3 separate regions of the Homo sapiens genome follow, and regions 2 and 3 are each linked to region 1. The links come from fine-mapping of genetic effects on gene expression. A gene starts in region 1. Each other region holds a variant in brackets. All regions are shown on one strand. Distances are from middle to middle. Region 1 holds the start of MYBPH (myosin binding protein H). Region 2 has its middle 10 kb from the start of ADORA1. Region 3 has its middle 15 kb from the start of CHI3L1.

The links. PIP is the estimated chance that this variant, and not a neighbour inherited with it, causes the effect.
Region 2: its variant is fine-mapped to the expression of MYBPH in monocytes (TOPMed, PIP 0.97).
Region 3: its variant is fine-mapped to the expression of MYBPH in whole blood (TOPMed, PIP above 0.99).

What each region holds. Positions count from the first base shown.
Region 1 is chr1:203,171,206-203,179,383 of GRCh38, reverse strand. It overlaps MYBPH (myosin binding protein H), which reads left to right and starts at 3,558. Exons shown (of 11, transcript NM_004997.3): 1 at 3,558-3,833; 2 at 3,923-4,057; 3 at 4,787-4,954; 4 at 7,344-7,432; 5 at 7,806-8,001. The coding sequence starts at 3,629. It overlaps CHI3L1 (chitinase 3 like 1), which reads left to right. Exons shown (of 10, transcript NM_001276.4): 10 at 1-453. RefSeq lists enhancers at 777-1,976, 4,894-5,423.
Region 2 is chr1:203,113,541-203,121,718 of GRCh38, reverse strand. No RefSeq gene overlaps it. Among named protein-coding and RNA genes, the nearest start is that of ADORA1, 10 kb to the left of the region's middle. The variant G/A (reference allele first, on the strand shown) is at 3,190.
Region 3 is chr1:203,197,778-203,205,955 of GRCh38, reverse strand. No RefSeq gene overlaps it. Among named protein-coding and RNA genes, the nearest start is that of CHI3L1, 15 kb to the right of the region's middle. The variant C/G (reference allele first, on the strand shown) is at 3,271.

The DNA.
Region 1 (8,178 bases):
GCCGGGAGCCTGATCACCTGCCCTGCTGAGTCCCAGGCTGAGCCTCAGTCTCCCTCCCTTGGGGCCTATGCAGAGGTCCACAACACACAGATTTGAGCTCAGCCCTGGTGGGCAGAGAGGTAGGGATGGGGCTGTGGGGATAGTGAGGCATCGCAATGTAAGACTCGGGATTAGTACACACTTGTTGATTAATGGAAATGTTTACAGATCCCCAAGCCTGGCAAGGGAATTTCTTCAACTCCCTGCCCCCCAGCCCTCCTTATCAAAGGACACCATTTTGGCAAGCTCTATCACCAAGGAGCCAAACATCCTACAAGACACAGTGACCATACTAATTATACCCCCTGCAAAGCCCAGCTTGAAACCTTCACTTAGGAACGTAATCGTGTCCCCTATCCTACTTCCCCTTCCTAATTCCACAGCTGCTCAATAAAGTACAAGAGCTTAACAGTGTGTTGGCGCTTTGCTTTGGTCTATCTTTGAGCGCCCACTAGACCCACTGGACTCACCTCCCCCATCTCTTCTGGGTTCCTTCCTCTGAGCCTTGGGACCCCTGAGCTTGCAGAGATGAGGCCGCCATGTCCTCTGCCTAGCCGCAGAGAGCCCCAGTGGGAGGCCAGCGTCCTCAGATTCACCTGCCTTGGACTTAACCCAAGCATGGCTGATGGCCTTCCAAATATTAAAGTCATTGCCATCCAGATTTCTAAATTAAATTCCCTGTTGAAAGAAACGTTTTCTGTTTCCTGAAGGCTAGCAGGCCCTGGGAAAGAAGGCTTTTCATCCCAACACTCCCTCTCTTCTGATCCACAGGAAGGTGGTGGGAGCTCATCACAGGACCAGGTTAGAAAGCCCTGAACCCTGGACCCTCAGGGCCAGCAGGAAATGCAGATGTCATCTCATGCACCCTTCCTGCCTCTCGGGACTGGAGTCCCTGCAGAGTGCTTGAGAGATGGCCCTCCAGCCTCCCAGTGAGGGGCAGCCGATTACCTTGGAAGCAACCCATTCCGTGGCTGGGCTGAAATCTGTCAATAGTCCTAGTGCTGGGCTTAGCCCTTTGTTCTGTTCACCCCTCCCCTAACACTCATCCCTCCACCCATTCAGAGATCAAAGTACCTCTGCTCAAGCTGGCCTGAGATAGGAGGTCGGGAGGATGTGATGGGGTGACTCAGAAGAATAGACAGATTTTCAGCCTTTATGAGGTGGAGACGCTCTCATCAGGCTTCTGTTGAATTCCCAGGGCCCCAGGAATGCCTTTATCCAAAAAGGCTCCAGATACTCACCCCAGAACTAAAGAGAATTGATTTGTGGATTCTCTGATGTTTGGATTATCTGTGACTTAGGATAATCACAAATTGGCCTGATGGTTTGTGACGCCGGTTTGAAGTGGAGGGAAGGAGGAAATATCTGAAATCTGAACCAGCTGGAGCTGGGCAGATGCTACTGATCCCAAGGTCACAGCCCTGCTGAAGGCGAAGAAAACAAGGACTCGGCAAGGCGTGGAGTGGGGTGTGGGGAGGGGGTACCCGGCATTTCACCTCTGGCTGGTGGGGCCAAGTATTCCCTAATCCCTGCCACTGCCCACCCCACCACACAGGCATCTTTGAAACCCCAGGGCTGCAAGCCCTTGTGGGCAGCCAACTGCCCTCCCCTGGGGCCACCCTTCCCCCAGCCGGGGACAGGCTCTCCAGGGCTGACTCAGTGTCCTGTGGGGTTAGTCACATTCACTTATAGCTGCAGAGTCAGAGGCCAAGGATGGAGATCCAGTCTCCAGGACCCACTCCCTGCCTGGCAAGACGTGGAGTCACCTAGCAGAGGGCGAGGGCATCCAGGGAGGGCCAGATCCAGAGGCTCCCAGGCCCTGCACTGCCACTCCCCAGCAGAGACAGCAGGGTTGAGAGGCAGCCACACCCTGGTGTCCCCAGTCCTCAGGAAAGGGAAGAGCATGCATGCTGCTGAGGGCCCTGAATAAATCACTTTTACTTATTTTTAAATTGTGAGCACATCTTACGTGCTAAAGAGTGCATAAATGTATTTGTTTAATTTGAAGAATAACTATGTAGTAAGAACCTGTGTAACCACCACCCAGGTCAGGAAAGGAAACCTCATTAGCACCCCTGCAGCCCTCACGATCACAGATATCCCTGTTCCTCCACCTAGAGGCAATCGCCATCCTAACTTTTGTACTGGCCTCATCTTCCTTTCTGGCCTTACCGCCTACGGATGTACCTTGAAGAAGGGAGCCTGGTGTTGACTGCATTTGGATTTAATGTAGATGAGACAGATGAGACGCAACATTTCTGTGTGCCTTGCTCTTCTGCTCATCACTGGGTCTGTGAGTAGCTGAAGTTGCTCATTTGACCCCATATTTTGCTTTACAGTTGCATAAACACTCCACAGTTATTTATCCATCCCACTGTTGAGGGACAGCTGTTTTCCCCCACATTTCAACAATTACAAATAACATTGCCATGAACCTTCTTCTCCATGTCTCCTGGGGCATGTGTGGGTGTTATATGAGCGGCACGGCTGGGTCACGGAGTAGGCACCTCATCCATTTTACTAGGCACTAGTAAAACTCTCACATTTTCCAGAGTGACTGCTCCAATACCAGCAATAAAAGTTCTTAATGTTCTCCCTCCTTCCTGACACATGGCATTTTCTGGCTTTCCAGTGATTCCCAGTCTTAACATTTTATCGAACAAATGAATCAATGACTAGAAATCTGGCCATATCTGCCTCCTTTGGCACACTGAGAAAGCCCATGCCCACAGCCTGCTTGGAAGAGTCTAGAAGCTTCAGAGTGCTCTCCTCCACTAGGGCATCTTCCAGATCTGCCTACAACTGCAACCCATCCCGAAGGGCGAGGGGTTCTCTGTAACAGGTGGAAAACTGAGGCCCACAGCAGGCATCAGGGGAGACGAGCTCCTTACCAGCCGCCCAACTGAGACAGGAGCCAGGAGACTTAGTGCCCCTTCCTGGGGTTCCAATGCTGGAGGACCATCCTCTGAGCAGCTCCACCCTCAGCATCTCAATTCCCTCCCTCTCTAGGGCCCTCAGCCTCATACAGCACAGGCGAGAGTCCCTGGGAACTGTGGGAGCCCAGGGAATGTGGACCCCAGAGGCAAAGCTGGGAGTGCTCACAAGGACGATTGTCCCAAACTGTCAGGGCCCCAGCACCCAGTCTGAGAAGCTCTGGGAACAAGTGGCCCCATAGACGCCAGACACACAGAGCCTGAGCTGGGCTCATTCTCCAGATAGAAGTTCTTCCTCCTATTGCCCTGACACCTGGCACGCGGCCTGCTCGATGTCCCATCTCACCCATCTGCGCCCTCCCCCAGCTGGGCACCAGCACCCTGGCTGTTGAAGGCCAGTCGGGGAGATGGATGAGGAAGTGACTCCTCAAGGGGCCCTTGTGGTTCCTCCCCCAGAGCTATTCCTGGCCTGGGCGCCTCTCCACCCTCCAGTCCTCCTGCTTGACCTGACCCCACAGCTGGGAATCGTTTGCTGGGGGTGGGGCAGCCCCTGACTATATAAGCCTGGACCTAGGTGTCCCAGGCACCCTAGAGGCCCAGGCCCCCCAACGGCTGACCCCTGCACACTCCACCCTGGCCCCCCAGCCAGTCCAGCAATGATGGAAAAAAACACCTCCGAGGGCCCTGCCTGCAGTCCAGAGGAGACCGCATCTGAATCTGCCAAGGTGCCCACAGCAGAGCCTCCCGGAGAAGTGGCAGTATCAGAGTCCACCAGAGAAGAGCAGGTGCCCAAGCCGCAGGCCCCTGCCCCACAGGCCCCTACAGCCTCCACAGCCACTAAGCCTGCACCCCCAAGTGAAGGTGACTGAAGGTGGGGCAGGGGGAGGAGGGAGGCAGGCATGTCAGGGGTGGAGGGGAGCTCTTGGCCATGAACCTCTTCATCTCCCCAGATGTCCCCAGTGCCCCACTGCTGCTGACCCTGGATGATGTGAGCAGCAGCTCTGTGACTGTGAGCTGGGAGCCCCCAGAGAGGCTGGGGAGGCTGGGCCTCCAGGGCTATGTGCTGGAGCTCTGCAGAGAGGGAGGTGAGTGCTGGGCTAAGTCTTGCATACACCCAGGGGAGGTTGTCATGGAGGGCTGCAGGGACAAGTGCACAGGCCCTGTGGTTGGTCAGTCTGGGAGAGATACAGAAGGAGGGGATGCGAGCAGTAGGCTCCTCAACCCACCCACCTGCCCTTTCTTGCTCCACCAGCAGGAGAGCAAGAAAGGGTAGGTGGGTGGGTTGAGGGGCTCCCTTGTCCTCAGCTCCAAGGAGCTTCTGAGTAAGGGAAGGGTAAGGGGACACTGGGTTCTCCTTTGGTGAGAAGGGAAGGAAGTGCTAAGTCTCAGAGGACCCCGAACTGTAGGAAGTGGAAAGGGAGGAGCTGGAGAGGGGAATGTTAGCGTAAGAGACAGTGAGGAGAAAGCGGGAATGGGGTGGGGGTGTGGGGGCCACATCCCTGCTGCCACTGTCCCCCTCCATGGCCCAAGTCCAGCCTGGCCTCTGCCTCTGCCCCTACCTTGCTGTGTGACTTTGCAAATGTGTCCAACCCTCTCTGGGCTTCAACAACCTCATCTCTAGCCACAATTTCAGGGCTCTAACATCAGGTGTCTTTGATGCCATTTGACAAGAAGTCAGGGAAGGCAAACAAGGGGAAAATGAGGCCCAGAGAGGGAGGCTGATTTCCCCAGATCACCAGCAGGAAAAGAAGCCCCATGGAGAGGGGCGCCTGTGGCCACATTGCAAAGACCTCACACTCTCTCCATCCCCTCAGCCTCGGAGTGGGTGCCTGTGAGTGCCCGGCCCATGATGGTGACCCAGCAGACTGTGCGGAACCTGGCTCTGGGAGACAAGTTCCTCCTGCGCGTGTCTGCAGTGAGTTCTGCAGGGGCTGGCCCGCCGGCCATGCTGGACCAGCCCATCCACATCCGAGAGAACATTGGTAAAGCCCATCCTGGCCTTCAGCTACCCAGCCCTTCCCAAACACCTTATCTAATGGAGAAACTGAGGCCAGCAGGTAGAGGGAACCAGGCAGTCATTTCCCCCGTCCCACGCTCACATGCACAAGCCACACGCTATCACCATCTTGCCTTAAGAAAGTTCCAGGTTCCTCAGCAGTAAGGGGCCTCTGGAGGTCTAAGAAGCCATTTCCCTGAGTGGTCCAGCCCCCACGCCTTGAGAAAGGGGCTCAGAAACAAAAGGTCAAGTTCCCTGGGTCACCTGCTCAATGCTAAGAGTCCATCTGTTCTATCTCCCATCTAATCTCAATCTCTCCAGTGGCCATAAATGCTCATTTTCTGCCCATTTCCTGTGGCCTGGGTTCCAGATTCTCTCAAAGGTCTTGAAACAGAGAGAAGGCGCTGCTTGCCCCTTGTTCCACCATGGCCCTAGTGGAAAGAAAAAGAAGGTCTGCAAAAGGCCCATGAAGACTTCTCCATTGCAGAGGGCATACCTCACTGGGGCCCCGCAGGCCAGCTGCCATCCCCATTGCTAATATTTCTATTTGCAAGGTGCATTAGCCTCAATCCTCCCCTCGCTCCCCTCCCGGAGCTGATCGGGTTTCAGTCTGTTAATGACAGTGAGTCATTTGGTCTGATCTGAGGTCTCTGGGGACAGCACAGTCCCCCAGGGTGAGGAGAGACACAGGCAGGCAGGTGGCCTGAAGCCTTCTCCACCTTCCTTCTTGCTCCTCCACTAGGGGATGGATGATTTCTGGTAGCTCTAGACAAGGCCTCCAGAAGGAGAGGGGATCCACAGGAGGGGTCAAGTCTGGATTCGAAAGGAAATGCTCAGCTCTGAGGCCTGAGAGACATGGGAACCATGGGGTTAGGGAGCTTAGATTCATAGATTATCAAGGCCCAAGGAGATCCCAAGGAGCCCAGGGCATCCCTTGAGGTCACCCAGCCTTTTATTGGCAGTCCCAGAGTCTGATGCCTACACAGGACCACTCATGTCCCACTGCACTGCAGAGCATCTTCTCTGGTGGCACCCAAAACCCAAGCCTCCCAACCCTAATTCCCAGCCTTTGGCTCTAGGTGAGATGTGGCCCCACCAGGCAGCTGCATTATGGCTGTGTCGACCCTAGTCCTGGAGGTGCCAGGAAGGCTTCTTGGTTGGGACGGTGCTGGGCCTTCCCCAGGGAACCAGGGAGCTCAGACTCTGAGAGGCCCCTGAGGCCCAGCATTGATGGACCCAGCCAGACTCAGCACCCACTTCTCCATTCAAATTCCTCTGGCAGGAGAGAAGGGGATTTCCTGGAGAGAAGAGGGAGAGGAGGCTGTGAACAAGTGGGGAACAGCCAGGCTTATCACAGGGCAGAGTGGGGGCCCTGTCCAGGATCCTTGGCTGCTCAGCTGTCTCTCCTTGGCCACCTGGAGCTGCCAAGCATTCTTGACCCCCTGCAGCTGTCCCTAGAGCATTCCATGCCTGAGCTCCCAGAGCCAAGTGCCCACTCAGCTAATCCTCAGAGACACCGTGTTCCTTCTCACTGTCTTGTCCTCCTCCGCCCTGCATGCCACCAACCAACTGCTGCCACCTGTTTGCTGCTGAGGAGCCTCAGTCATGGACCCAGCACCCACCCCAGGGGACAGGGATGGTGGCCACTGCAGCTTCCCTTAGAATGCCCAGGGGCTTCAGTGGTTGCCCCTGACCAGATGAGGGTCAGAATGTCATTCCTTAGCATAGCAGGCAGCTGAAATAGGACTTCAAGAAGGACTTCCCGGCTCTGAGACTAACAGATTTTGGGAGGGTGACAGAGGAAGAAGGGGGGATACCCGCCCTGGCTTCACTTGGGAAGAGAAAGATCCTAAACCTTTCAATAGGGCCTGGAGACAGAGGAATGGACAAACAGGGTTTCACAAAGGCTTCTCTGAAAGTCCTGGGCTTGTGGAGAGCTGGGGATATTAGAGCAGGAAGACGGCAGTGGCCTCCCCTTCCTAGAAGTGCAGCCTGACAGGTGCAGCACCTGCTCCCCAGCAGGGGGAGACAGAGAGTCAGCTGGGGCCCATCTGGTGCTTGGGAATGCCTGGGCTGCAGGACAAATCCCATCCTGGCAGAGTCGAGGCGCCAAGGGAGTGCCCAGGATGCTTACCAGTTCACACCATGGAGGCGCTGACCTCCTGAAACCTCCTGCTCCCTTAAGGGATTTGGGCCCCTAGACCTCAGGAGTGAGAGCTTCACCCTTCCTGCAAGGAGGGACCCCATGGCAGCCAGGCACACCCAGGACCCTCCTCCCAGCCAGCATCCCTCACCAGCTGTCCCCTGCCCCATCTCAGAAACCCCAATCAGCCACCCCACTGCACTGCTAAGCCCAGACTCTTGCTTTGATCCAGAGGCCCCCAAGATCCGTGTCCCCCGCCACCTCCGTCAGACCTACATCCGCCAGGTGGGAGAGACGGTCAACCTGCAAATCCCCTTCCAGGTGGGTATTACCCCCACCAAGGGTAACAGCCTGGGTGGGAACCAGGGCCCCCATTTAAGGGGAGCCTGGGAGATGGCAGGGTCTCCAAGGGTCCAGCTGAGACCCAGCGAGACGGCTTCATCCTTCCGCAATCATGCACATGACTCATTGGTGATTCTCAGCCTGTGGATGGGCAGGTGGGCCCCCAGAGCGGGATGGACACCTGGAAGATGTGGCTGTGGGCAGCACCTGTGGCTCCAGCCTCTGCTGCCCCTCCTGAGAAGGGCCAGTGGGACAGGCTTCCCCGAGAACAGCTCCAGAGACTCCTGGAGTTAAGGAGGTGTGGGGACTCTGGCACCTCCCTACACTCACCCTGGGGGCTCCTCCCTGCCAGGGGAAGCCTAAGCCTCAGGCCACATGGACCCACAACGGCCATGCCCTGGACAGCCAGCGGGTGAGCATGCGCACCGGGGACCAGGACTCCATCCTCTTCATTCGCTCGGCCCAGCGCTCCGACTCTGGCCGCTACGAGCTCACTGTGCGCGTGGAAGACCTGGAGGCCAAGGCAGTCATTGACATCCTGGTGATTGGTATGGAGCCAGGGGAACAGTGCTGTCTCATGGGGGACCTGGAGCCCCCAACCTCCTATCCCAGAGCTGATGGCTGATGGGAGCAGGCCAAGGGAGTGTGGCAAGAGCCAAATTTTGGGTGTGGGGGCTCTGTGGCCAGCCTGGCCCTCACACTCACTTCCTCTCACACTCTGGGCC
Region 2 (8,178 bases), 58 kb after region 1:
GTTCCCAGGGAAATGCTGAGGAGGATGAGGGAGATTTGACGGACAGGCTGGTTGGGGGGATGGGGGATGGGATACGAAGTCCACTCCTGGACAGGTTGGGCTGGCTGTGCCCATGGGAGGGGTCCAGCAGCCTTCTGGAAATGGCCAAAGGGTGATCGGAGCTGGAGCTGGGTCATCGCAATGGAGGTGACAGTCAAGGCCCTGGGAGAGATGAGGCCACCCAGGAGAGGATGCAGAGAATAGGCTGTGGAGAAGCTGGGCTGTGCCCACAGTAATCAAGAGGGAGGGCAGCCAAAGGGGAGGAGCAGGCTACCAGACATTTCAGGAAGCAGGGGTGCTGAGTGGTTCGGGGCTGAGGGCTGAAGGGCAGCTATGATAGGTCTGAGGGGGATGTGGTGGATTTCATGAAAAGAAGGGTGTGGAGACCTCAAAGAAGCTTCAGGGGATGGGGGAGTAGGAGTGCCTCTCAAAGGTTGACGCTGCAGCAGGTAAGCAAGGTAGAGGCCGTGGGTGCAGATGAGTCTAGTTTGAAAGAACTTGGCAGGGATGAGAACAAAAGATGGATGGTGAGCTGCAGGAGAGAGGGGTCAAAAAGAGGTTGGTTTTAGATGGGGAGCTCTGAGCATGCTTACAGTCTGAGGGAGGGAAGCAGTGGCAAGGAAGAGATGAATCAGAGGGAAACGAAGCTGAGCACAGACCCCAAGGAGCTAAGCAGTTAATGACAGCTGGCTGGGCACAGAGCTCTGGATGTCCCCAGACCTGGAAGTATCTAGCTCTTCACCAGCTCCAAGCCCTCCCCCACTGCCACTGGGTCCTAAGGAGAGGCTCCCAGGTCTTCAACCCCAACCCAGCCCTTCCCTGAAGCCCCTCCACCCCCCCACCTGACACAAGGCCAGCAGTTGGCCAGCCATGCTGCAGCTCCATTAAAGACTCAGCCTTCTCCCAGCACCAGCTCCTCTTCATCTGACAGCCTGTGGCCCAGCCCCTACCCCTAACCCTAGCCCACGGGGCACCAGTCACAGATTTCTTGGCTTCTCTGCCCCTGTCTGCGGCCAAAGAGGTGCCTCTGGGCAATCCGCCTGCCACCCCACCACTGTCTGGGAGATCCACCATGTGACTCATAAGCGCTCATGCTGTCCTGTGCAGCCCACCCCATCCCAGCCAGCAAATGCACCCCACCTTCCTGGACTCCTCCGACAGCACCTCCAAGGGTTCAAAGGCAAGCAATCCTCTGTTTCCCCTCCCCTCACTAGGCAGAAGGGGAAATTGAGGCAGGGGAGATGATGATATCTGTTGGAGGTGAGGCAGCCTGGTATCTGACTCCCTAATCGCTCCCTTATTCCTCCCCACCCATCAAGAGGTGTCCTTGTCCCTCAAGAAAGACAAATACCCCCACTATCTTCTATATGTTCCAAAAGGGAGAAGAAGGCTGTCAAGACTAGAGAAAAGAAGGAAGGAGGGGCAGAAGTGAAGCTGCCAGACTAAATTCAGGACACCCAATTAAAAACTTTTAACAGCTTTATTGAGATACAATTTACATAATATAAAGTTCACCCATTTAAGGTGCACAATTCAGTGGTTTGAGTTACTTATGGAATTGTACAACCATCACCATCATTTAATTTTAGAACATTTTCATCACCTTTCCTCCAAAAAAACTTTGCACCCATCAGTAGTCACTTCCCAACCCTTCCCTCCACCACCCATCCCTAGCAACCACTAATTTACTTTCTGCCTCCATGGATTTGCCTATTCAGGACATTTCATATAAATGGAATCATATGATACATAGGATACATGGTCCTTTGTGACTGGCTTCTTTCACTTACCATAATGTTTTCAAGGTTCATCTGAACTGTGGCATGTATCCATACTTCATTCCTTTTTAAGGCTGAATAGTATTCCATCCTGTGGACAAGCCACATTTTGTTTATCCGTTCTTCAGTTGATGGACATTTAGCTTGTTTCCACTTTTAGGTTATTGTGAATAATGCTGCTATGAACATTCGTGTACATGTTTTTTTATTTTATTTTTTTTTTGAGACGAAGTTTCACTCTTGTTGCCTAGGCTAGAGTGCAATGGTGTGATCTCGGCTCACTGCAACCTCCGCCTCCCAGGTTCAAGCGATTCTCCTGCCTGAGCCTCCTGAGTAGCTGGGATTACAGGTGTGAGCCACCACACCTGGCTAATTTTTTGTATTTCTAGTAGAGACGGGGTTTCACGATGTTGGCCAGCCTGGCCTCAAACTCCTGACCTCAGGTGATCCACCCACCTCAGCCTTCCAAAGTGCTGGGATTACAGGCGTGAGCCACCACACCTGGCCCACGTACAGGTTTTTGTGTGAGGATGTGTTTTCATTTTTCTAGGGTAGATACAGACAGAAGAAAAGGCAGAACACATGTCTGGCCCTTTCTCACATTTATCCCCTGTATCATCACCCCACCTGGGTGGGAAGCTATTATGCTCCCCTTTGCCAGATTAAAACACTGAGGCTCAAGGAGAGGCCTGAAACCACTGAGTGCTGGAGCTGAAACGTGAGCTCAGGCCTCCTGATTTCCACTCCAAGGTTCTTTCCAGTTCATCACAATAGCCCACTCAGAGAGTCTGCAGCCCACTGAGGGAACGAAACAGAAGGAACTGAAAAGCAACATCTTCCACGTGAACCATCACCTCATCCTTCTGAAGTCCTAACTAGGTGCTTCATGGACCATGTCCTGGGGTGTAAGGGCTGAGACTGAAGCCAGAGGCTTCATGGAAGGAACGAGTTTTTGCTCCACTCAGTAAAAAGCTAACTGGGATGAAATGGCCCCTGTCCTCAGCCAGTATCCCTGGGTCCCCTGAGAGCCTGCAGGAGAGCCCACCATGTACACATTCTCATAGTTATTTCTCTGAGTGAAGCCCCTCCCAGCAGCGATGGAAGCCAGGTGTGGAAACACTAGGCATTCACTCATTATACTCAGGAATCAGAACTGGTCACAGAGGCTTGGCCACTGATTCCGGCTTCAGCCCATTCCCTCAGCTCCAGTCTTATCCTGGCCCCAACTCCCTGATGTTAAGCAGAACTCAAAGTGCTAGTCTAGAATCATTCCCTTCAGATCTGCCTCACCCCCTCTGCCCTGAACCCTGTCACCAGCGAGCACTGGGCATGGAAGGAAGGGAATTTGCGCTAAGTGCACGTTCCTCAGGTC[G/A]GGATAAAGAGGTAGTGGATGGCCTGGGCTCCCTGGTCCTCTGTGGGCTCATCCCAAAGTCCTACCTTCCACACCAGAAAAGCAAACAGCAGCTTGCTAGAGGGGTCCACTCTACAGTTAAAAGCCACTCACTCCATCTGGCTCGTCAAGTGGGGTGGGAGACACAGAGGAGCCCTTCACTTACTGAGCTTTTCTATTTCAATCACTATCCCCGGCCCGAGTTGGACAGACTTCATCCAGGGCTTAAAATAGCTCCCGGGGCATAGAGCTCAAGAAACATTGACTGAATGTTCAATGTTCAAAATAATACACTTCAAGAGTACAAGAAGGAAGTCTCACAACGCTTTATGGTTTAGAATTATTTAACTATCATAGCATTGCCGGTGAAATAAGTATAATCATTTTCCCATTTCTCAGAGGAGGAAACTGAGGCTGGGGGGAGGGAGGTGGGGAAGGTGGATCGGCTGAGCAGCGGGATCTAGAGCCAGAAGCAGCCGCCCAGCTCAGGGCTGTTGTCCGGGGCTCGGGGTCCCCCTGCTGGCCTAACGGAAGCCTGGGCGTGGGCGAGGAGCTGGGCAGGGCCAGACCCCAGTCCCGCAGCCTGAGTTCCCTGCTCCGCCGCGCTAGGTGCTGGGTTCCCGCGGAAGGGAGAAGAAGGAGGAGCCATAGCTGGGCTCAGCATTATAGCGCCTGGCGGAGCACTGCGCAAGGCTTCAGCTGAGATGCTTCACCCGACATCATGGGCCAGAACAGACGAAACAGGCAGCGCCTCAGCTCCCCACCTGCCCGAGCCTCTCCTGAGCTCACCTGCAGAAAGGCCAAAAGGGACGGCGCCTAAGAAGGCCCAGCAGACCCGCTCCCTTGGAGGGAAGAGACAGATTCGCTCTCCTGACGTCCAGTCCAAAGTGCTTTGTTCCCATAGCATTGTCTCCTCCCGTTTCCAGGCAAATCTAACCCAGCCCCAAGAGAACACTTCCCTCCTCTCTGGATCTTGTTGCCCAGGCTGGAATGCAATGGCGTGGTCTTGGCTCACTGCAACCTTCGCCTCCCGGGTTCAAGCGATTCTCCTGCCTCAGCCTCCCAAATAACTGGTATTACAGGTGCCTGCCACCACGCCTAGCTAATGTTCTATTTTTGGTAGAGACGGGGTTTCACCACGTTGGCCAGGCTGGTCTTGAACTCCTGACCTAAGGTGATCCACCCGCCTCGGCCTCCCAAAGTGCTGGGGTTACAGGCGTGAGTCACCGGGCCCGGGCTTCCAGCTCCTTTACTTTCACCCCACTTCATCTGGCTGCTCTACAATTCCCACAGTGAGGAGGGCTAACTTAGACCCATCCACCACGTCCAGAAGTTACCCCTTGTTGGGGGACGGCTGGCCCTCGACTGGGCATGGAACTCTCTGTTATTTCAATACTCCTCAAAGGTTTTAAGTTTGGTCTCTAGTGCCAAAAAATCTGGCATGAAATCTCACTTATGTCTCTTCTTAGTGTGTGACTTTGTGCACATTACTGAACCAAGAAGCCTCCGTTTTCTCATCTGTAAAATAGAAATTATAATACTTTCCTAATGGGCTGTTGGGAGGATTCAGTGATACATTATACAATCAACAGCACTGTGCCTTGCATTACAGCGAGTGTTTGGTAAATGCTAATAATGATCATTACCTTTCCTACCCTAACACCTAACTAAAGAGAATGGGGTGAAGGGTACATGGGCAGGTAGTTCTGGAGAGAAAAGTGCAGTGCCCCATCACGTGCTTGAGTCTTCTCCAACCTGGCCACCTCCTTGCGTTCCCACCCCCTATCTGCAAGGGGGTGGGTGGCAGCTGCGTCCCTCCCCTGCCCATGCCCTGACAGTGCCAAAGGGCTGGCACAGCTGCTGCAATGGCCCAAATGCCTCAGGTTAGGGCTAGGTAGGGGACAGCTGGGGGTAAAGGAGACGTGAGAGGAGGCAGAGCAGGGGCACCCTTCTCTACCAGCATGTCCACTCACCCTGCAGCTTCCTAAGCCTCTCAGGTCAGCCAGGGACCTCTGACCTCACTCCTGTCCAGCCTGAGGGGGTTTCCCCCTCTTTCCCTCTCTTGTTCTCTGGCCTCTAGTACCTCCTCCTCCATGGCTGGACCCACCCAGTCTCCCAGCCCCGTTGCCCAACTCCCTCTCCTGCCCACATGCTGCCCAGCTGTCGCTGCCCCTGAGCTGGCACTCTGCCCACCTGCACCACTCATGAATCGCCAGCATTCACACTCTGACCCTGGAACCTCCACCTGTTCCCCTCGGTCTGAGCAGCAGGGCTGTGTGGCCCCATCTGTTGTCCTCCAGCCAGGACTCAGTGCAAGGGACTACACTTCAACCCCCGCCAACTTCCACCTGCCAGGAGAGGGCGGGAAGGACTGGCTGGGATGATGCCTGATTTGGGGGGCTCCTTATCTCCTGGAAGAGCAGGCCTTGTTCTCCCCTGCCCCAGGCCCACCAGCACTGTCTTAAAAGACCAACATTACAACTGAAAAAGCAAAAAGCCCACACTTCCCAAAGGACATTTGCATATTTAATAGCATTCTCCTATTACATTTCACTTGTTGATGGCAAGCCCCTAAATCAGAAGCTGGTCAGTGCAAGATGGTAAGCAGAAAGACACAACAGTGGCAACATTTTCAATTAATGTTTCATTATACAAACAATATGTGAATGCGCTTTCCTTGATAAAAAAGTGAAACCACTGTAGTTCAGGCTCAAATTCCATTTAACCAGTTCCCTAAATCAAGACCCTTTCATCTAAACGCAGAGGTGACCATTGTTACCAGTTTGATGTGTATATTTCCAGGAATTTTTCTATGTATTTGCATAATATAAGTGTGTGTGTATATGTACATTTACACACAAGTATGTTTACATTACATATAAATAAGAGTATGTATATACCCCTATACACACATTTATATATGCAAATATATATATATTCAAAAAAAATGTAGTACTATCATGGGTTTGGGTTTTGTTATTTTTTACATGAATTGTAAACTACAAATATTCTGCAGCTAGATTCACTAAAAAAGTCTTATCAAGTCAGTACATCTAGCTCTGCAATCTCTAAATGATACATAATTCTAGCATAAACACATCATAGTTTGTTTAGCCATTTCCCTATTGATAGGCATTTGTGTCTCATTTTCTCCCACTACAAATAAACATGTCCCTGTCACAGATTTTAGCCTTCTCCAATTTGGTCTTACCTGGTCCCACCTGGTCCTGTGTTCCTACCTCTTGTGAACAAAAAGATTTATCATTTAATTCTTTTTAAGGGCACAAATGTAACAAAAGTGTCCTTGGGAACATTTTATTACAAATTTTTAGTAATTTTTCTCAAAACCCTAGGTCCCACTATGATGATTTCTGTATCCACTCAGAAGCAAATTATTGCTGTAGGAGAGAGAGCTGCAGTCAAGGAGGCAGAAGGAGATACAAGAAAAAAAAGTGAAGAGAGAAAAAGGTAAAAAAAAAAAGGGAACAGAAGGAGCAAGAAAGAGAAAGAAGTAAAAGAACATGCTTATTTATTACAGCACTCTCTGCAACAGGGAAAAACTGGAACTGTCCAACAGAAAGGAAACAGTTAAGTAAAACTTGGCATATCCATTCAATGGAATATTACTCAGCCATTACAATAATAATTGTGAAGATTATGCAGGAGCATGGAAAATGCTTCTGATATTAAGTTACAAAGTAGACTACAAAATTAAAACTACATTATGATGACAACTATGCAAAATGATGTGGGCATACAGACATGGGAAGGCAATATAGACAAATGAAACCAATCTGATTTGTTGGAGTAGCAGAATTGTGGGGGCACTATTATTTACTTACTTCCATTAATATTGCTATAATATGGTTTGTGCAATATATGATTAATGCCAAAGTGAAACAGCAATGGAAAGAAGGCAGGAAAGGAAAGTGAATAAAACAGAAAGAGGGAAAAGGGAGGAAGGGAAGAAGGGCGTGAAGGAAGGAATGAGAGGAGAGGGTTGAAGAAGGGAGATGAGAAGAAGGAGGTTGGCGTCAAGCCTACGTTTGAGGGCTGGGCTGTCTTCAGCAGATCTGTCAGTCACAGGGTCGATGCAGGCTTTTCTTCCAGACCCTTTGGATCGACAACAGTTTTCACTGTTCATAGAAGATGGGATCTCCCTCCTCCTTCCCTCTTGTATTCTTTGAAGCCTGCCAAGGAGCTAGGGATACCGAGCTCAGGACTGTGCTCTTCAGGGACTGAAAATCTAGTCAGGTGGGGAGAGATGGAGGCATAGATACGTGAGCAAACTATGACAGCCAGCCCACAAATGCTCAAATAGAGATCTAATCCTCTAAAGGTGGAGGCTGTAGGGTCCCAGAAGTCTTCACAGATCAAAGGACATTTGAGCTGGGGCTCAAAGGATGGACAGGAGATTTCCAGGCAGAGAAAAGGCAGTGACATCCTAGGTAAAAGGCACACGTGCAGAGGAACTGGGGCCTAAATACACACCCATACCACGTACACTACCATTCATATGGCTAGACACAGGGCTCAGGAAAGACAGAGACAAGAGATGATGCCTTGACTTTATCCCCAGGGCAATGAGAAGCACTGAAGGGTTTAATCAGAGCAAAGGCACACTCTGATTTGTCCTTTAGAGAGATAACCCTCAAGACAATGAGGAAAGTGAGTGGGAATAGGGCAAAGTGGAGAGAGGGAACATCAGTTAGGAAGTTACTGTAAGAGTTCTGTTGAGAAGAGTAGGACCCTATGTTGGGCAGTCAATGGGGTGAGGGGAGAAGGATAACTCAAGAAATTCTTAGGTAGAAACGACAGAACTTCATTCGTTCATTCATTCAGCCAGTGTCTTTGGAGGGCCTGCTATGGAATTGGGTATTCAGAGATCAAAGAGAGTCTGTGTCCTAACAGGGAAGACAGAGGGTTACAGATCAATGTGAAAATAGCTATGATTGAGATAAGCCAATGGGG
Region 3 (8,178 bases), 27 kb before region 1:
CCCGCTGGTGCCCTTATTTCCCTAAGCTCCTTCCTGGCATCTAGAGTAAGATGGCCAAGCTGTAGCCTTAGTTCGTATGACCTTACTTGGGCCTCCTTAGAGGTGGAAACCTCCACCCTCTCCATGTTTAAAGTTAGCTCTCTGTATGCCACATGTGGCTTATCTGTGCCCACGGTTAAGTCCTGGGCTGCCTTCTGCTGCACAACCCAGAGCTACTTCACCCAACCCTGGAGTATGAAGGGACTTGGCTCCATAACATGAGCCAGGACAGGGCTTCATGTTCGACATCTGGGACCCCTAAAGTCAGAGTACAGAAGGAATGTCACCCCACCATCTTCCTACTGCCATCGCCTGGACGCAAATGTGACTTGGTATGGAGGGAAGATCAAGAGGTCTTTGCCCCCTGGACAAGTCACTTCTCATCCCAAGTCCTCTGTGTCCCATTGTACAGTCGGCAGGTTGGACTAGATGACCTACTGGCCACAGCTGGCCACTGCCAGCCACTGGGTACCTCTTCTCAGAAAATAAGGAAAGCAAGGGAGGGTCAGAGTCTCCACTTGGCATCAAGCATCACTTCTTCACCCTGATCCCCCATCCAGAAGACTCCTTGCAATATCATCCTGAGCTAAACATGGGGGACTTGCTCTATGGCTTCCTCCTCCTGACACACGTGTATGCATGTGCACGAGCAGACGCACACACACACCCCACCCTTGTGCAACACGCATGCTTGCAGAGGAAACTTGTCCTTTCTTGGCCAAGCACAGGGGCCTGGAACAATGGGAGGGAGGGTGTCTTACATTGCACTTCACACCAGAGCCTGTCCTTACAGATTCCTCAGGATCTCAGTCTGCACTAGCTGACCCCACAGGCCTTCCCTGCCCTTCCACCTTTCGGGTTCCACATCTGCAGCAACCACTGAGCTTCAGCCAGCCAGCGGTGGAGCCAGATGCCCAGGCTGTGCTCCAGAGCATCCCTGCAGTGACTCAGAGGCCACTGACCTTTGAACACATCCAGACCTCCCCTCCCTGCCAGTGGAGAGATCTCCCAGCACACCAGACCCTAAATGCCTTGAGACAATCTCTTTCTAATCCCTTAATCCAGTGGTGGGAGCCATTTTCTATTAAGGGGCAGTGACCTCAGTGGAAAATCATAATCATACAAGGGCCACATCACTGTATAAAATTACTGAAGTTTGATGTGGCTGCTGCTGTTTCTTTTTAATTAGGAAAGATGTATAAAACATTCAGAACACCTGATTTTTAAAGGAAGACAAAACCATGCAAAATAAACATGATCAATATGTTAGAATATGTTTTCCAAATTGAAGGCAGTTGAGATGGTGTGACTTAAAAGAATGTAAAGGAAAGAAAGAGTGAGAAATTGTGGTAGGAAAAGGAGAAAGACTAGAGAAAAATAAGGAAAACGTGAAGGGCAGGAAAGGGCAGGCCAGTGGAAAGGAGAGGGAAAGAGGGTGATGAGGTTAGGAGCAGCAAGGAGGGCTCGTTAGGCCCAGCTGCTGGGTCATTACTTTCTGCTCCATGCTTCTGGTCAACCCTGATCTTGTAAGGCTGGTTTTCAGATTATTACCTGGATTGTAGGCTACCATTTACACAAAGTCATTTGGTAGATGCTCATTTCTATTATACCATTTCATCTTTGCAAGAACTCTAAAAACTAGGCTTGAGAAAAGTAAGACCTAGAAAAGTTGCCCAAGCTCACACACCATAACAATTGGCCAGGACTCCAATTCATCCGCAGATCAAAGCTTCTGCTGTTGATACTATACCATTTGTATTGTCTACCTTGCCATTATCTTCCTATTGAACTGTTGATTATCTTTGTTCATTGCCCCCTTGATCACCATGAGGCAATGAACAAATGATCCAGCTACTCTTTCCTTCTTTCTGTTTTCTGAACCCATTAAACTCGTCCCATCTCTATTCCCCACCTGCCCTGACCTCAAAACTTGGTCTGATCTATTCTTGCTTCCTGGGCTTGGTTTTCCATGCCCAGATCTTCCCATAGCAGCCCAGCTTACCCTTCAGGTCTCCCCTTAAGCATCACTTCTTCAGAGAGTCCTTTCAACCACCTCCCTGTCACTCTCTCACATCACTCCAAATTGTTTATTATCATGGCACTTACTGCTGCGCGGTGTTTTTTGTTTTGTTTTGTTTTTTGTTTGTTTGTTTGTTTGCTGTTGACTATCCGTCTTTCTGAGCTAGAAGAGAAACTCCATGTGACCAGGACTTTATCAGCCTTGTTTGTTACTATATCTCCGGAATCTAATACTACTTCTGGCAAATAGTAGATGCTTAATATGTGTTTGTTGAATGAACGAGTGAATAAATGAACTGCTCTCTATCCCCTTTATAGACTCTGCTCCTAGCTGTTAGTGGTACTTTTTTGTACAGAACCAACAAATCAATCCCTAGGTTGCATTTCCCATATCAATCAGCTCAAATTCTCCTTCTACAATTCTAATCAAAACTCATCCATTCCACAAGCATGTCCAAGCTCTTGGCTGAGACTGTGGATGAAGATAAATGAGATTTGACTCCAGATTCAAGGCCTGAGCTTCTGGAGTTTATAGAGTCTAGAAGAGAGGGGATAAGGCATGCCCACAAAGTATTATAATTCAAGATTAAATGAGTCATAAACAATTAAAAAAGAACAAATTAAATATGTTCAGAGGAAATTTCCTCTGGTTGGATGATCTGTGGGGACCCTAACGTAAAGAAACAACAGAACTGAGATCGAGTTTTGAATGAGGGTTCAGACCTCACTGCAGTCTCAGGCAGTCAGCCATGAGACTCAGAGCCATGACCTCAGATTGAGGGCCAGGGTGTGTCCAGACTGGACCAGGCACGCGAAGACCCGGGAGGCAGGAGGGGATAAGGATGGAGAGAGGCTGAGGCCAAACGGTCCAGGTTTGTGGACTGCACATAGCCATGGGAGAGAGCGAACTGAGTGGGCACCATGACCCAGGCAGCAATGTAAACCAGCAGCCCAGCCGCTGCACTTGCAGCTGACAGGAGGGAAGGGGGTTCGTGCAGGACCCTCACCCACAAACCCAGGGGGTTAACCAAGTTTCTGTCTAAGAAGTTCAGCAGGGCAGATTTCTCTCCTTTCTTAGTAATGTGAAATGTAAGCTGGTCAACAGGCATGATTTCTCAACAGCAGGAAATGAAGCAACTGTTTTGGAGACAGCATCCCTCCCTGATGGAGGGCAAGGCTTCAGGCTGTGGTCATTTTCCTGTCAAGTTAATC[C/G]TAGTTGTAGAAAACACATCTCCTGAGAAGGCTGGCCTGTCAGGGAAGGGGTGGAGACCTGGAGGCCTGGGGTAGGAATGGGAATGAGGAATGAGCAGGGCTCCATGTTGTTACTCATGAGCGGTAGGGGCTCTGCTGGAAGAAGATCGGGCAGTGTGGAGAAACTGGAGGCGGACTAGGAGGTGGGGTGGGAGGCTGGCGGCGAGCGGAAGGGAAGGATGGGCAACAAGCTTCAAGGGGACTTGGAGGTCTCAGGGAAGGATGCCAGACCTGGAATAGTTCCCAGCCTCTGCCTCTTTTCTTTTTTATTTTTCGACAGAATCTTGCTCTGTCGCCCAGGCTGCAGTGCAGTGGCGAAATCTCGGCTCACTGCAATCTCTGCCTCCCAGGTTCAAGCGATTCTCCTGCCTCAGCCTCCCAAGTAGCTGGGATTACAGGCACCGACCACCATACCCAGCTAATTTTTGTATTTTTAATAGAGACGGGGTTTCACCATGTTGGCCAGGATGGTCTTGATCTCTTGATGTCGTGATTTGCCTGCCTTGGCCTCCCAAAGTGCCAGGATTACAGGCATGAGCCACCGCGCCTGGCCCTCTGCAACTTTTCTCTCCATCTTTCTGAGGCCCATGGCCCCTCCCAGACTCAGTCATAGCCCTAGCTTCTGGGACCTGGGACCACAGTCATTTCTTCTAGTTCCTTCTCCTGGGCCCATCTTTACCATATTATATTGTAAGTATTGGCTCAACAACTGCCTTCTACATAGACCCTGGGCCCATTGAGGGCAAGGGCCCTGTCCCCCTCCTCTGCTGGCCCTAGCACCTGGCAGACTGGGGCTGAACCTGCAGGGCCTGTGGATGTCGGGCTGAATGATATAGTTGCCGTTGTACCTTCTGGGTCTCTTCCACCACCTGATCTCTAAATGTCAGGATGCCTCAGGGCTCAGGCATGGGCTTCTGCCCTTCTTGCTCTACGTGAACTCATCCGTTCCCATGGCTTTAAATAGCATCTTGACACCAATGACTGTATCCGCAGCCTAGACCTCTCCTCCAAGCTCCAGATGCATGTATCCACCAGCCCGCTTGCTCTCTCTACCCAGATAAGGCATAAACAGTTCTTTAATATGGCTGAGACAGACCCCCTACTCTAAAACTTATCTCCACCCCATGAATTCCTCACATTAAACAATTAGCACAACCTTGTCCACCTTGCTAAAGGTAGGACCCCCTGGGTGGTTCCTGGTCCCTCTATTCCCTCATCCTTTTACATCCAACTCATCTGTAAGTGTGCGGATGTTCCCTCCAAGGAATGTCCATAGTCCACCCTTCTTTCCACCTCCACGTCCCCAGCCCAGGGCAGGCCACCGCATCTCTTGCCTGGACCTCTTTAACAGCTGCTTATGTTCATGCCTCTTCCACTCTTGCCATACCACAAATCTATTCCCTACAGAGCCACTAGAGTGACTTTCCAAAACATAAACTCTATCCTGGACTACCTGCTTAAACATCCAGTGGTGTCCCATTGCACAGAGGACAAAACCCCTCTGTGGTTTCCACAGGCCCCAGGACACAGACCTGCCTCTCTCCCCGGGGCCTCTTGTCTCTCCCCACATCCCCAAACTACTCTAGCCAGCTGGTCAGCTTGCTTGTGCTTTTCTCTTTTTTTTTTTCCAACACACTAAGCTCTTTCTCACCTCCAGGACTTTGCATATGGTGTTCTCTGCCTGGATCATTTTCTCTCTTCTTGAGGTAGCTGACTCCCTCTCATCCCTCAGATTTCTGCTTAAGATCACCTCCTCGGAGAAGCCTCCCTGACTGTCCTAACTAAAGGAGGTTCCACTCCTCACTCTCCCCACCCTAGCCCAGGACTTGGCACCTAATAGGGGCTCAGTAACTCTTTCCTGAAAGAATGAACACATGCTGCCCTTAGTCCCTGGCAGACTCCTGTGAGCTCTTTAGTTTATCCTTCTAAGCCACCAAAGATTCACTCTCCTTTCCGCTTATTTTTACGTTTTCTCAAAACTTTCCTCATAAACACCATATTGTTGAGTTTCTTTCTCTCCCTAAAATAGCTGCAGAACTGGACAAAGACTGGCTATCTGCTTCCTAGCTGTCCCTTTCAGTTTCAGGGTTTATGTGCTAGTCATTGCAGGGGAGCAGTGGGGAGAATGGAAAATTACCAACAAGGAGAAGTGGCAGAATCCAGGGACTGACCGTGTTCTTACACCCGTGGTCCTCAGTCTATAGTTAGCTTCTGACTTCCTTTCTTGGCAAGATCTATACCAGCTATCTAGGACAGTCCCAGTTTCAACTGTTCTGTCCTATTGTCCCACTGTGTTTCATGAATTTTCTTACAATATTGGCTCTCTCTCTTTTTCCTCCCACTCTCCTTTTATCCCATGAGGGCAGCCTTACTTAAACAACCCTCGCACTCAGTGTTGAAAGAGCTGAATTCAGTTCAAGTCTTGCTCAACCACATAAAATGTGCACGACTTTGGGCAAAGCACTGATCCTCTCTCAGCTTCCGTTTGCTCACCTACTGAGAGGGATAAGGCCAACACCTCCATTCCAGCATTCGGCAGGGCGGGTTGTGACTGGAATAGCATGTGTTGGGCACTTGGCACCCATAGCAAGTCTCCCTTGCCCCTCAGGATGAATAATGGAGTGAATTAGTCTTTCAGCCAAAAGACTCTGGGCTCCAGAGAGTAATGTAATGCTTTACCCAAACAGTGGAAGTGTGGAAGTGATGTGGATGTTGGGGGACTGTTATATTCTCTCGGTTCAGCTGTGGCCTGAGTGATGAGTCAGGTCATGTCTGTAGATAGAGAGCTCTGTCTCCACAAAGAGGAGGTGCCCAGCTCCAATCCCTGGGGAAAGGTTGTATCTTTATTGGAAACCAGAGCTCAGAAGACTAGCCTTAGGGAGATGGAAGAGGGCCCCGACTTGGGAGCAGGGGTGCATCTTTCAACAGGGGTCCCTAAACAGATGGCGCCCTCCGTATGGAATCAGGAGTCGAGCATAGCTTGAACGTCTGACTGTCCAGGACCCACCTCAAAGCGTGCACTTCCCCTGCCTCACCCTCAAGCCTCCCCTGAGTCTTATCTGAATGCCTTGGCTCAGGCTCTGCTTTTCAGGGGGAGGACTGTGCCACCTCCTGGGCCAGAGTGTTAAGGGGTGACCAGTGCCCCTGAGACCACCTTGGCTACAACCTCTCAAGGGAAATGTGCATCTTGGTGAATCCGAGGGACAGGGTAGGGATCATGCAATCCAGCTGCTTCTTTCTCCCCACCAGGGAGGTCTTCATCCAGTGCCAACCTGGGTAGGTCTGCCTCGAGCATGTTTTTATTGAGGAGCTGGCACTTTCTTTCAAATGTCAGGGGCATTGAAGACCACGCAGGTTTCACCTCCTCCAGGCCCTTGCCTAGCAGGAGAAAGGTCACTTTCAGGCATGTCCTCACACTCCCTGCACTCAGGTTTGCCTTGGGCCATGCCTGGTCAAAGGAAGCCTAGAGACTGGGCTCCAGTACAGGCTCTGTATTTAGCAGCCAAGTGACTTGGAAAGGTCACCTGCTCTCTGCTTCCTCATTGTCAATGGAGAAAACAATCTCTGTATTAGTTTTCTGTGGCCGCTATAACTAATTACCACAAATTATAATGGCTTAAGACAGCACATATTTAATGTCTTACAGTTTTTTGAGGTTACAAGCCTAAAATAAGTTTGATAAAGCTAAAATCAAGATGTCCACAGGGCTGTGTTCCTTCTGGAGTCTCCAGAGCAGAATCTATTTCCCTGCCTTTCTAACCTTCTAGAAGCTGCCCGCATCCCTTGGCTCGTGGCTCCTTCCTTCATCTTCAGAGCACATCACTCCTACCTCTGCTGCCCTTGTCACATCCCCTTTTCTGTGTCTGACCCTCCATCATCCGCTCATAAGGACCTCTGTGATTATATTGGGCCCACCCAGATAATCCAAAATAACCTCCCCAACTAAGACTCTTAACTTAGATACATCTTCAAAGTCTCTTTTGCCATGTGTGGTTACATGTTTCCAGGCTCTGGGGTCTAAGACATGGACATCTTTGGGGAGCCATTATTCTCTCTACCACAGCCTCCTTACCACATAAGCTGTTCTCAAATCGCATCCATCTCCAGGCTTCAGGAAGGACCTTCTCATCTCATCGCAGGCCAAAGGGCCCGGTCGCCTAAGGATGAGGCCTGGTCCCCTAAGTACTCCTAAGGATGGAGAGTCTGAAGATAGCTTTATTTGCCTGTTTTCTTTGAAACAGGGTCTTGCTCTCTCACCCAGGCTGGAGTGCAATGGCAAGATCTCAGCTCACTGCAACCTCTGCCTCCTGGGTTCAAGGGGTTCTTCTGCCTCAGTCTCCCAAATAGCTGGGATTACAGGTGCATGCCACCACACCTGAGTCTTTTTAGTAGAGACGGGGTTTCACCATGTTGGCTAGGCTGGTCTCGAACTCCTGACCTCAGGTGATCTGCCTGCCTTGGCCTCCCAAAATGCTGGGATTATAGGCATGAGCCACCACGCCCAGGCTAGTTGCCTGTTTTAATGTTGAAGGCTCTTAAAGGGAGTTATAACTGCTATCTGACCCATCTCCATTCTGGCAAAAGGGATCCATGTAGCTCTGCTGTATGCGTTTTCCAAATTCAGTGTTTAGTGGGGGAGCCACAGGATCATCTCAACTGCAGAGGGTGGAAATCTCATGGGAGAGCCAGAAATGAAGGTGGGGTTGGAGAAGGAGAACCGGCCTCCTCAGAGCATCTGCTCCGTGCCAGACCCTCACATGCATACCTCACTGAATTCTTACCACAATCCTGTGAGGAGCTGAGGCTCAAGGGGGCTGAGTCATGCTAAAAAGGTCAGCAAGTGGCAGAGCTGAATGGGGGTTGGGGACT